Regions from separate parts of the Homo sapiens genome. Here region 1 is linked to region 2. Evidence: fine-mapped expression QTL. A gene starts in region 2. The other region holds a variant in brackets. All regions are shown on one strand. Distances are between the middles of the regions. Region 1 has its middle 8.6 kb from the start of TRC-GCA1-1. Region 2 holds the start of ZNF783 (zinc finger protein 783).

Region 1 (5,377 bases), 39 kb after region 2:
TCCTAGAGCACAATCCAGAGTCCTGGGGGAAGGTGTCCATACCAGTGCCCTCTCCAGCTTACATCCATCCTGTCCCTGATGATCCAGAGCTACATGTTGCTCTGATGGCAGCTGGCTTGGGGTTGTGGTTTCAATTGTGTCCTCCCAAAGATATGCTCAAGTCCTAATCTTCAGTACCTGTAAGTGTGACCTAGGTTGGAAATAGGGGTTTTGCAGATATAATTAAGATGTAAGTTAAGATGAGGTCACACTGGAGTAGGATGGGCCCTTAATCCAGTATGGCTGGTGTCCATGTAAGAGGAGAATGCCATGTGAAGGGCACAGATGCAGAAGGACATCATGTGATGGTGGAGTGAGTTTGGAGGGACGTGTCTGCAGGTCAAGGAAGGGTGGTTGCTGGTGACACCAGAAGCGAGGAGAGGGATGTGGAACAGGTTCTCCCCTGGAGTCTTCAGAGGGAGCACGGCCTTCCTCGCACCTTGATACCACACTTGCAGCCTCTGGAAGTGTGAGGGAATACATTTCCATTGTTTTAAGCCCCGCAGTGTGTGGTCCTTTGTTTCAGTGGCCCTAGGACACTCCTGGGGTGGAGACTGTGCTTCTCCACTGGGCCAGGACGAATGGGGCAGTGGAGGCACAGCTTTGAGGAGGAGGGCGAGGCTGGGTCCTGCTCCAGGAGAGGCTATTACTTGTTCTCCAGGGGAGAGGCAGCTGTTCCACTTTCTCCTGGCAGGAATAAGGAGAAAACAGAATAGCTTTTCCTCCCTCAGCCCTGCTTTACCATCTGGAAAGTGCAGGGAGATTGGGTGGGGGTGGGGTCCCCATTTCTCAGACTTGTCTATCCAAATCTCCCCATCCTGGACCCCATGTCCCACTGTCCCATGTGGACTCTGACTCTGACCTGGGCAGCCCATTGCTGTCCCTTGTCTCCTTCCAGCCTTCTGCACAGACTGCTCCATGGCTACAGGATGTGAGAGCCTCTTTCTTTTTCTTTTCTTTTTTTTTTTTTTTGAGACGGAGAGTCTCACTCTGTCGCCCAGGCTGGAGTGCAGTGGCGCAATCTGGGCTCACTGCAAGCTCTGCCTCCCGGGTTCACGCCATTCTCCTGCCTCAGCCTCCCCAGTAGCTGGGACTACAGGTACCCGCCACCATGCCCAACTAATTTTTTTGTCTTTTTTTAGTAGAGACGGGGTTTCACCGTGTTAGCCAGGATGGTCTCGATCTCCTGACCTCGTGATCCGCCTGCCTCAGCCTCCCAAAGTGCTGGGATTACAGGCGTGAGCCACCGCACCTGGCCAAGAGCCTCTTTCAAAGCCCCTTAATGACCTTCTGGTATTCAGTTTGTCTCAGTTGGCGGTTGGCTGTCCTGAGCCCGCTGTTTCATTTATGCAAAGTGTTCATGTTGTGAATGGAAGCCAGACCCCTTACTATCCTCATCTTTATCATTGCCCTACACCAGGCACTGGCAACTGCAGCTTCGAGCCGAATCTGGGCAGCTATATAATTTGCAGGGCCCAGTGCAAAATCAAACTGTGGGTCCCCTTATTCAAAGGCAGGAAGAAAGTACCATGGAGGGTACTAAAATACTAAGCTTCTTCCTTTCTTCCACACTCTCTCTTTTGACCTATCATAGTGTTTTTTGTTTGCTCTTTACTGTCATTCTGAGTAAAGAAAAGTTAAAACATTAATTGTTAATGTAAAACAAAAATTAAAAACATTATGAGCGTGTGTACCATTCATCTTTGTATTATGAACGGATAGTTTTAAATGCAAATAGAAGAGCATTTACTGGGATGCAGAATCACTGAAATCACATGATTCCACACAAGTAAACAATATTTGTAGTTCACACATGCATATGCGTTTCATTCTTACAAGAACCGTGGAAACTGCCCAAAGCTAACTTCATTGTTTTCATTTCACTTCCTGCTCCATGCCCGTTCTACCAACACTCTCTATCTTCAGTATAACCAGGAGCAAAGGACTAACGGAAAAGGAGCCATGGGCTGCCCTCTCTTCTTCCTTCTAGCCCAACATTTTCAGAGTAAGTAATTGGCTAGCACATGTATGATAATACGAGTAGCATGGGGAAGAAAGTGTCTGATACATTTCCTTGGTTGCTTGTGTTTCTCAGAACACCATGTGATATGGTTTGGCTGTGTCCCCACCCAAGTCTCATCTTGAATTGTAATTCCCACAGTTCCCATGTGTTTTGGGAGGAACCTGGTGGGAGTAATTGAATCATGGGGGCGGGCTTTCCTGTGCTGTTCTAGTGATAGTGAATAAGTCTCATGAGATCTGGATCTGATGGTTTTAAAAACTGGAGTTTCCCTGCACAAGCTTTCTCTTTGCCTCCAAACCATCTAAGATGTAACTTGCTTCTTCTTGCCTTCTGCCGTGATTGTGAGGCCTCCCCAGCCATGCGGAACTGTAAGTCCATTAAACCTCTTTCTTTTGTAAATTGCCCAGTCTTGGGTATGTCTTTAGCAGCAGCGTAAAAATGGACTAATACACCATGGTATTCTTTCTGTATTTGAACCAAGTTCTGGTCCCAAAGGAAAGTAGGACCTCTTGGGCTGTCAGAACCCTACTTTCTCGGTCATAGATGGAATGTGCTTACCTTGTATATCCCATTGGGTCTTGCTGGACTCCATGCATTGTGGGCCTTCGGAATGCAATGGGGCACCACAAGCACTCTATATGCAAATTGGGCTGCAAGGAACATGCTGTGCTCATCTCTGCTCCTGACATGCTCATTGTCCTATTGGATTTCACCTGCAAAACACAAGTTCAAAGGTAAGATTATGAGTTTCCTGATGGCGACAGCAGAGCATGATAGCAAACTCAGGTCTTTCTAAGCATGGGGTTCTGTGCCACTGCACAGGTTCATGCCCATAAAGCGCTCCTGATCTAAGTGGTACTTGAGAGGTGTTAGTATC[A/G]CCTGTTCCAGGCACTGCTGAATAGAGCAGGAGTTCCAGACAGAGTCCTGCTCTTTTACTATGAAATCACAGTGCAGTTGGGGGATGTGAGTTTATGTATTCAATAATTCATTTCAGTAGCATTTTCCATGCTAAGTCCTGTACATTAGATATATCAAATATGCGGGATCTGCAGTGAGAGTCCATGCTCTGAGATGTGTGTGAACGTGCATGCGTTAGATGTGTGAAGGGCTTGAATGGCTCGAATCCAATACAAAGCAGCAATAATGAAATAGACTACACGTTGATGTGGGAACCCGGGAGAAGGGTAGACTGGCCGTCAAGAGAGTCAGGGATGAGCTCACAGGAGCATGACGCTTGTGCTCGGTCTCAAAGAATGAGTAAATGTCTTCAGGGACTCTCCAAGGCGTGAATCCCGTCCAAAGGCCTCAGCCACCCACCTCCGCCGCCACCTCTGCTACCATCCTGCCTCAAACATCATGCTCCACAGCCAGGCCTTCCCCTGGCTCCCTGCACTGCCCACTGGGGGCCTCCCTCATGGCCAGGGTAAACGGCCCATCTTTCTACCTGGCCACGCTGGCCATGCTTCCAGGCCTCTGCTCTCGCTGGTCCTCTGCCCGAGAGCCCTTCCCTTCAGACATTCGCATGGCTTGCTCCCCGCTCCTTTCAGATCACTTGCAGATGTCACCTCTGAATGCTCCATCTAAAATACCACCCTACTTGCTGCTGGGGCCCCTTCTCTTTCCCCCACTCTGCCTTATGTGTCTTCACAGCACAGATTTGCACCTGACATTAATTATTTGATTATTATCTTTTTAAAAAAATTATTTATTTTTTGACACTGGGTCTCCCTCTGCCACCCAGCCTGGAGTGCAGTGGTGTAAACACAGCTCACTGCAGCCTCAACTTCCTGGGCTCAAGCAATCCTCCTGCCCCAGCTGTCAAGTAGCTGTGACCACATGCACATGCCACCACACCTGGCTAATTTTTGAATTTTTTGTAGAGATGGGGTCCCACCGTGTTGCCCAGGCTGGTCTTGAACTCCTGGACTCATATGATCCTCCTGCCTCTTGCTCCCAAAGTGCAGGGATTACAGACGTGAGCCACTGTGCCCTGCCTGTTTGATTATTATCTACTCCATGAGAATGGGGATGTTGTTTTGTTCCTGCTTGATGCCCAGTACCTAGAATAATGCCTGGCACATAGTAGGTGCTTACTAAATATTTGAATTATGAAATGAGTGTTTTGTGTCTGTTTCTACTAAAATGTAAATTCTTTGAAAGCAAGCACCATGTTCTTCATCTCTGCATCTATCCTGTTTAGCACAGAGCCTGGCACAGAGGAGATGCTTCATAAACATTACCTGATCTCTTCAAATGGCAACATAACATTCCACTAAGTGAATGCTGTTAACCATTCCCCTACTACTAGACATTTAGAGTTTTTTTTCTAGTTTTAAATTAAAAATAATACAGTGATAATCTTAGGTTTCTTATTTTTCATGGGTGTTTATTTATTTAAAATAGATTCTCAGAAGTGGCATGACTGAGTCAATATAATAAATACAATATTGCCAAAATTGCTTTCCAAAAGGGTTGGAGAGGATTGAAAATGTGGAAAATCCCATTTTACCCTTGCCATCTTAAAATGTTAGTGCTAGATAACAAACAAGCAGAAACAAAAACAAAACAACAACAAAAAGTACTGTGTTGACGGTATTGGTCAGCCCGGGCTGCTAAAACAAAATACCATGGACTAGGCAGCTTGAACAACAGAAATTTATTTCTCACAGTTCTGGAAGCTGGAAGTCCAAGATCAAGATGTGGGCAGATTCTCTCCTGGCTCTCCTTAGGGCTCTTCTTCTGGCTTGCAGACATCCTCAACATGTTGGGGAGAGAGGGAGAGAGAGTGGGAGAGAAAAGGAGAGAGAGAGAGAGAGATGTGGAGATGTGGTCTCTCTTCATGTAAGGGCACTAATCCCACCCTGGGGCCCCACCCTCATGACCTCATGTAAACCTAATTACCTCCTAAAAGCCCTACCTTCAAACAATATCACTTTGGGGATTAGGGCTTCACCATATGAATTTTGGAGGACACAGACATTCAGTCCATAACAGTAACCAAGAAAAGTTTCTGGAAGGCAACAGCATGACCAGATTCATTTTGTGTGCATTATGGGTTGAATTATTTCCCCCTCCCTTTTTTTTTTTTTGACATGGAGGCTCGCTCTGACGCCCAGGCTGGAGTGCAATGGCACAATCTCGACTCACTGCAACCCCTGCCTCCTGGGCTGAAGCAATTTTCCTGCCTCAGCCTCTCCAGTAGCTGAGGCCACATGCGGGTGCCACCACGCCCAGCTAATTTTTGCATTTTTAGTAGAGACAGGGTTTCACTGTGTTGGCCAGGCTGGTCTCGTACATCTGACCTCAAGTGATCTG
Region 2 (5,367 bases):
ATTTCTTGGGAACTAGTTAGAATTGCAAATTCGCATCACTTTCATCCCCTCCTGTTTCAGACCTAGAAATGTTGAGGTTTGTGCCTAGCATCCTGTATTTTTAACAAGAACCCTCAGTGAACATGATGCACACTGAAGTTTGAGTACCACTGACTTAGAGAAACTTTTTTTCTAAAAAACGAAGACTAGCTGTCAAACATTATAGCACTCTTTCCTCAACAGAGCTCATTAAATCCTAGCATTTTTGTCTCCAGCCCATTTTCCTGACCCTTTCTTTCTTTCTTTTTCTTTTTTTTTTTTTTTGAGATGGGGTTTTGCTCTTGTTGCCCAGGCTGGAGTGCAATGGCATGATCTCGGCTTACTGCAACCTCTGCTTCCCGGGTTCAAGCGATTATCCTGCCTCAGCCTCCAGAGTACCTCACCACCACACCCAGCTAATTTTTTGTATTAGTAGAGATGGGGTTTCATCATGTTGGCCAGGCTGGTCTCGAACTCCTGACCTCAGGTGATCCATCCGCCTCAGCCTCCCAAACTGCTGGGATTACAGGCATGAGCCACGGCTCCTGGCCCATTTTCCTGACCCTTTCTGTTTGCATTGGACCTTAACTGTTATTCTATAACGTCACCATTTACTGGTATTTTATAATCCTGAATAGATTGGACTGATCCCTGATAAGATCCTAGGGATGCTCTTAATGTCTTTAGTGCATACTTGCAGTTTGTGTTTTAGATTGGGATAGTTCAACAAGAATTTCCAAAATGAATAATGCCAAATATTTATTTGATTTGTTACCTTAAAGTAACACGTCCTAACCTTTCCGCAAATTTTGGGGTTCACCTTACTTAGGATATCAGTTTGTGTTTTTTCTGATAGTTGACCACGCTTTTGCTTGGCTCAAATATTTGTGAAAATAACTTCTCACCCTCACCCCCCCCCCCCAAAAAAGAAAAAACAAAACCAAAACCAAAAAACCCCAAACAAACCCAAACACAGAAAGAAACAAAACTGCAGATTTCTAGCGGGAAGAGTTTGCCAGCTTGTTGGACAAAGACTGTGAGATGAATGGGAAATGCAGAAAAGACAGAAAACAAAGCTTCAACTGCATACAGCACATTTAGTTCAATATGCCTCAGCACAGGCCGAGGAAAATGGGTCCTGCGGTTTATTCAAGATGCCTCAGGGCCTAAATGAGGGATGGACTGATTCACACTTGCTGTGATCTCAGCCTGGACCAAAGCTACAGAAGGGTCCTCGTGGGTGGCTGAGGACTTTCACCAGGCGGGCCCCGGGAGGAGGAAGGGACCCCAGAGTCCTCAGGAGGGGAGGGCAGGCTTAGGAAAAAAAAAAAAAAAATCCTACCATCTTCACGTTTGTTCTGTCAAATTTAAAAGAGACTTTAAAAACGTTCATGTAAGTTTCCCTGGCTTCTCCCTGGGTACACACGTATCCTTTTTACTTTCCCCAACTCAGTTCTGTGGTGCGTGGGAGGCGCTGCAACAGAGTCTCGGTCCGGACTGGAGCCCCGGCGAGGGCCGACCCCGTTCCCCACGCAGCTTTCCCTCGCGAGGTTTCGCACTTTCCAGCGCGGTTCCTTCCCGCAGCCCTCCCGGCTCCCGCGTGGGACGCAGAGAGAGGTTGGGCGCCGCGCTGGCCCGGGAGTGGCTTACGCCTGACGTAGCCCCGCTGGAGGCCGTGGCACGCCCGCCCTGGCGTCAACTCCCGCGCCCCGGGTGAGGGTGGGTGGCCGCGCCTGGGTCCCGGACGCCGCGGGCGCTGAAGGCCTCGGGAGGGCGCGGGGCGGCGGCCGCGGGCGTGCGGTCCTACGGGCTGCAGGGGGCGCTGTGCGCGTCCTCAAGCTCGGCCGCCGAGCGCAGCTCTTTTTTAAAGGGCCAGCGGGGCACGTGGCTCGGGACGCAGTTCGCTGCCGCCCGGCAGTAGCTCTCAGGTTAGGCGGGTCCCGCTCCGCTTCCGCCGTCGCTGCCGCGCCGCCCCGGGCCCGACAGGCCGGGTCCAGGGACTGCAACCCAGCGAGGGACGCGGGCAGCCATGGCCGAAGCGGCGCCTGCCCGGGTAAGCGCCCTCGGCCCCGCGGACGCCCGGAAGGCCCAGGCCGCCGCCGCGTGAGCCCGCGCGAGGGACTCTGGCCGCGCGAGGCCGCGGGGTGAGAGGGCCTTGCGCGCAGCCTCCGCGCTCGTTGCCCCCGGCCCATCGCCCAGCCCGCGTCGAAGGCATTGACCGGGCGGCCCAAATGCCAGGCCCGGCGGGCGGGGCCCCGACGTCAGCGGCTGACGATCCGGCCCATCTGCGGCCTCAGCCAGGCCGGGCCCCAGAGTCACGCTCGGCGACGAGGAGGCCGCGCCTTAGGAGTATTGTCCCATTTGAGGCCTCGCGGCCCCCCCTACAGCAGGCTGGGCGGGCAGGGGCCGCCAGCCCCACGGGACAGTAGCGGAGGCTGAGATGGGAAGGGACAGGCCCAGGGTCACGCATCTATTAGAGGCGGGAGCCTCACGCCGGGGCAGGGATTTTGGAATTAGACACTTTAAAACGCCTCATATTCTACTTTTGCCAAAGAGAAAGATTGTGTCGTTTACAAGAGAGATAGTAGATTTTTTTAAAAAAGATTACTGTAGCAGATTTTATTTAATTTTTTTTTTTGAGAGGGAGTCTCGCTCTGTTGCGCATGCTGGATGGAGTGCAGTGGCACGATCTCGGCTCACTGCAAGCTCCGCCTCCCGGCTTCAAGGGATTCTCCTGCCTCAGCCTCCCAAGTAGCTGGGACTACAGGCGCCTGCTACCACGCCTGGCTAATTTTTCTATTTTTGGTAGAGACTGGGTTTCACTATGTTGGCCAGGCTGGTCTCGAACCCCTGACCTCGTGATCTGCCCGCCCCGGCCTCCCAAAGTGCTGGGATTACAGACGAGAGCTACCGCGCCCGGCCATTTTAAAATTTTTTAATTAAAAAAGTATATATATATACGTGTGTGTGTGTGTGTGTGTGTGTGTGTGTGTGTGTGTGTATATATATATATATATATATTTTTTTTTTAGACACAGTCTCACTCTCACCCAGGGTGGAGTGTAGTGGCGGGATCTCATCTCACTGCAACCTCTGCCTCTGCCTCCCGGGTTCAAGGTATTCTCCTGCCTCAGCCTCCCAATCCCAAGTAGCTGGGATTACAGGCGCAGGTGCCTGTCTCATTTATATCTATCTATCTATCTGTCCAGATACATATCTATATGAATAAGTTTATTCATAAGAATACACTATAAGTATTCCTATACAGAATTTTTCTCCTGGAGAAGGAAGAATCACATCAGTTTTTTTGGCATCTTCATCTATATAAGTTAGGCCAGTTTAGCAGATTTTAGAATCTTGGTTTGATATAGTGCAGTATGTCCAATTGGGAGATTATAATCCTTTGGCCATTTTTGACATACTGGAAAACGCTTGTAAAGGCTCAATAGATGATACCTACTATTATTAATACACCTCAGTGAAGGTTTTGAAACCTTGATTTTTCTGGATACTTTTATTAAAGTATAACTTCCTCTCCCTCCTCTTAGTGAGTGTGCTGAGCTTCTTTTTGGGTTCCCTGAGTGCAAGGGAGAGAAAAAGCGTTGAGGATTCTGCAGGTTTATAGTCCTGTTCCCTGGGAAGAGGGGGCCCTAGAAGGTGACATCATCCACTCCCCCTAGCCTGGGGCTCACTGCTTCACTACCTTTCAGATCACTCCTGTCCACCTGCTCCTCCCTTCTTGCAGCACTTGAGATCCCAAAAAACTCCCCAAAAGGGACAGATTTGCCCTGGACTCTTGTTAGCCCATCCTATCACACTGTTGTTGTTTATAAGTATTCCTATACAGAATTTTTCTCCTGGAGAAGGAAGAACCACATCAGTTTTTTCTTCATCTTCACTGTACATTTACTATGATAGGTGTTCAGTAATTGTTATTGAATGAATGAAGCAATTATAGATTACTAGTGCTAAGGGGGAGGGGCAGTGAAAATCTCTAGGATGCGTTGTCTATGCTAGAATCTTAAAAACGAGAGAGACTCAGGCATACAGAGGATGCATATTGAGAGCTGATGTGAAGTTGGAGGAGGGCCGGGTGGGTCCTCGGAATCCACAGGAGGCTGGCATGGCTGGAGCACGACAGGAACTGGATGGCTCAAGGTCAAGAGAGGTCGGCTGGGCCATGAAGAAGTCTAGATCTTATGCCAGGTACACTGGGAAGCTATTGAAGAGTTTTAAGCAGGGTACTGAAATGATCTATTTGTGTTTTTAAAAGATTACCAGGCCGGGAGCAGTGGCTCACTGACTCACGCCTGTAATCCCAGCACTTTGGGAGGCTGAGGCGGGCGGATCACAAGGTCAGGAGTTTGAGACCAGCCTGGCCAATATGGTGAAAGCCTGTCTCTACTGAAAATATAAAAATCAGCTGGGTGTGGTGGCGGGCGTCTGTAGTCCCAGCTACTTGGGAGGCTGAGGCAGGAGAATCGCTTGAACTTGGGAGGTGGAGGTTGCAGTGAGCCGAGATTGCGCCACTGTACCCCAGCCTGGGCGACAGAGCAAGACTCCGTCTCAAAAAAAAAAAAAAAAAAAAGATTAACAATTACTCTGTGGAAAGTGTATTGTCGGGGAGAAGCCTGGAAGTAGGGGAGAAGGCTGGAAGTGGGGGAGAAGGCTGGAAGTGGGGGAGAAGGCTGGAAGTGGGGGAGAAGGCTGGAAGTGGGGAAATCAGGTGGGCAGGACCGCAGTGGCCCAGGCCAAGCAAGGTGATGGGAACTTGGACTAGACACTGGCAGTGGAGAAGGAGAAACATGGATGGATTTGAGGTAATTTTGGAAGTTAGGACCTGATGGTGATTTAACCATGAAGGATGAATGAAATTGAGGAGTGAGATGTTGATTTGTCTCTCCAACAAGGCTTTTAGCAGCACCAACCAGGACTGTGCCCATTGCGCATGCACAATGAGGGCTTGTGAATCAGATACCAGGGTAAGCTGAGGCACTTGAGAAGCTTTTTCCAAGGCACTGAAGGACAATGGAATAAAAGAGGTGGAGGTTAAAAAAAAGGCCATATGAACTATTTATACCATATCCCTGAGCTGGAACCATCACCATAATCACTGTCATTGTCTCAGTCTGCTCAGGCTGCCTTGGTTCCCGGCAGGGCTCTTTTCCTGGTTTGCAGACGGCTGCCTTCTCATTGTATCCTCACGTGGCATACAGCAAGATCATCTCCCTTGTGTCTCCTCTTACAAGGGCGCTAATCCTATTTATGAGGGCTCTGCCTTCATGGCCTAATTGCCTCCCAGAAGCTCCACCTCCAAATACCGGCATATTGGGGATTAATGCTTCAGCA

What was found. PIP is the estimated chance that this variant, and not a neighbour inherited with it, causes the effect. A credible set is the group of variants that fine-mapping cannot tell apart.
Region 1: its variant is the best candidate, but not a certain one, in a credible set for the expression of ZNF783 in NK cells (Gilchrist 2021, PIP 0.71).

The regions. Positions count from the first base shown.
Region 1 is chr7:149,298,930-149,304,306 of GRCh38, forward strand. No RefSeq gene overlaps it. Among named protein-coding and RNA genes, the nearest start is that of TRC-GCA1-1, 8.6 kb to the right of the region's middle. The variant A/G (reference allele first, on the strand shown) is at 2,940.
Region 2 is chr7:149,260,287-149,265,653 of GRCh38, forward strand. It overlaps ZNF783 (zinc finger protein 783), which reads left to right and starts at 1,910. Exons shown (of 6, transcript NM_001195220.2): 1 at 1,910-2,071. The coding sequence starts at 2,048. It overlaps LOC124901769 (a long non-coding RNA gene), which reads right to left and starts at 2,055. Exons shown (of 2, transcript XR_007060582.1): 1 at 1,361-2,055. RefSeq lists a silencer at 1,508-2,377.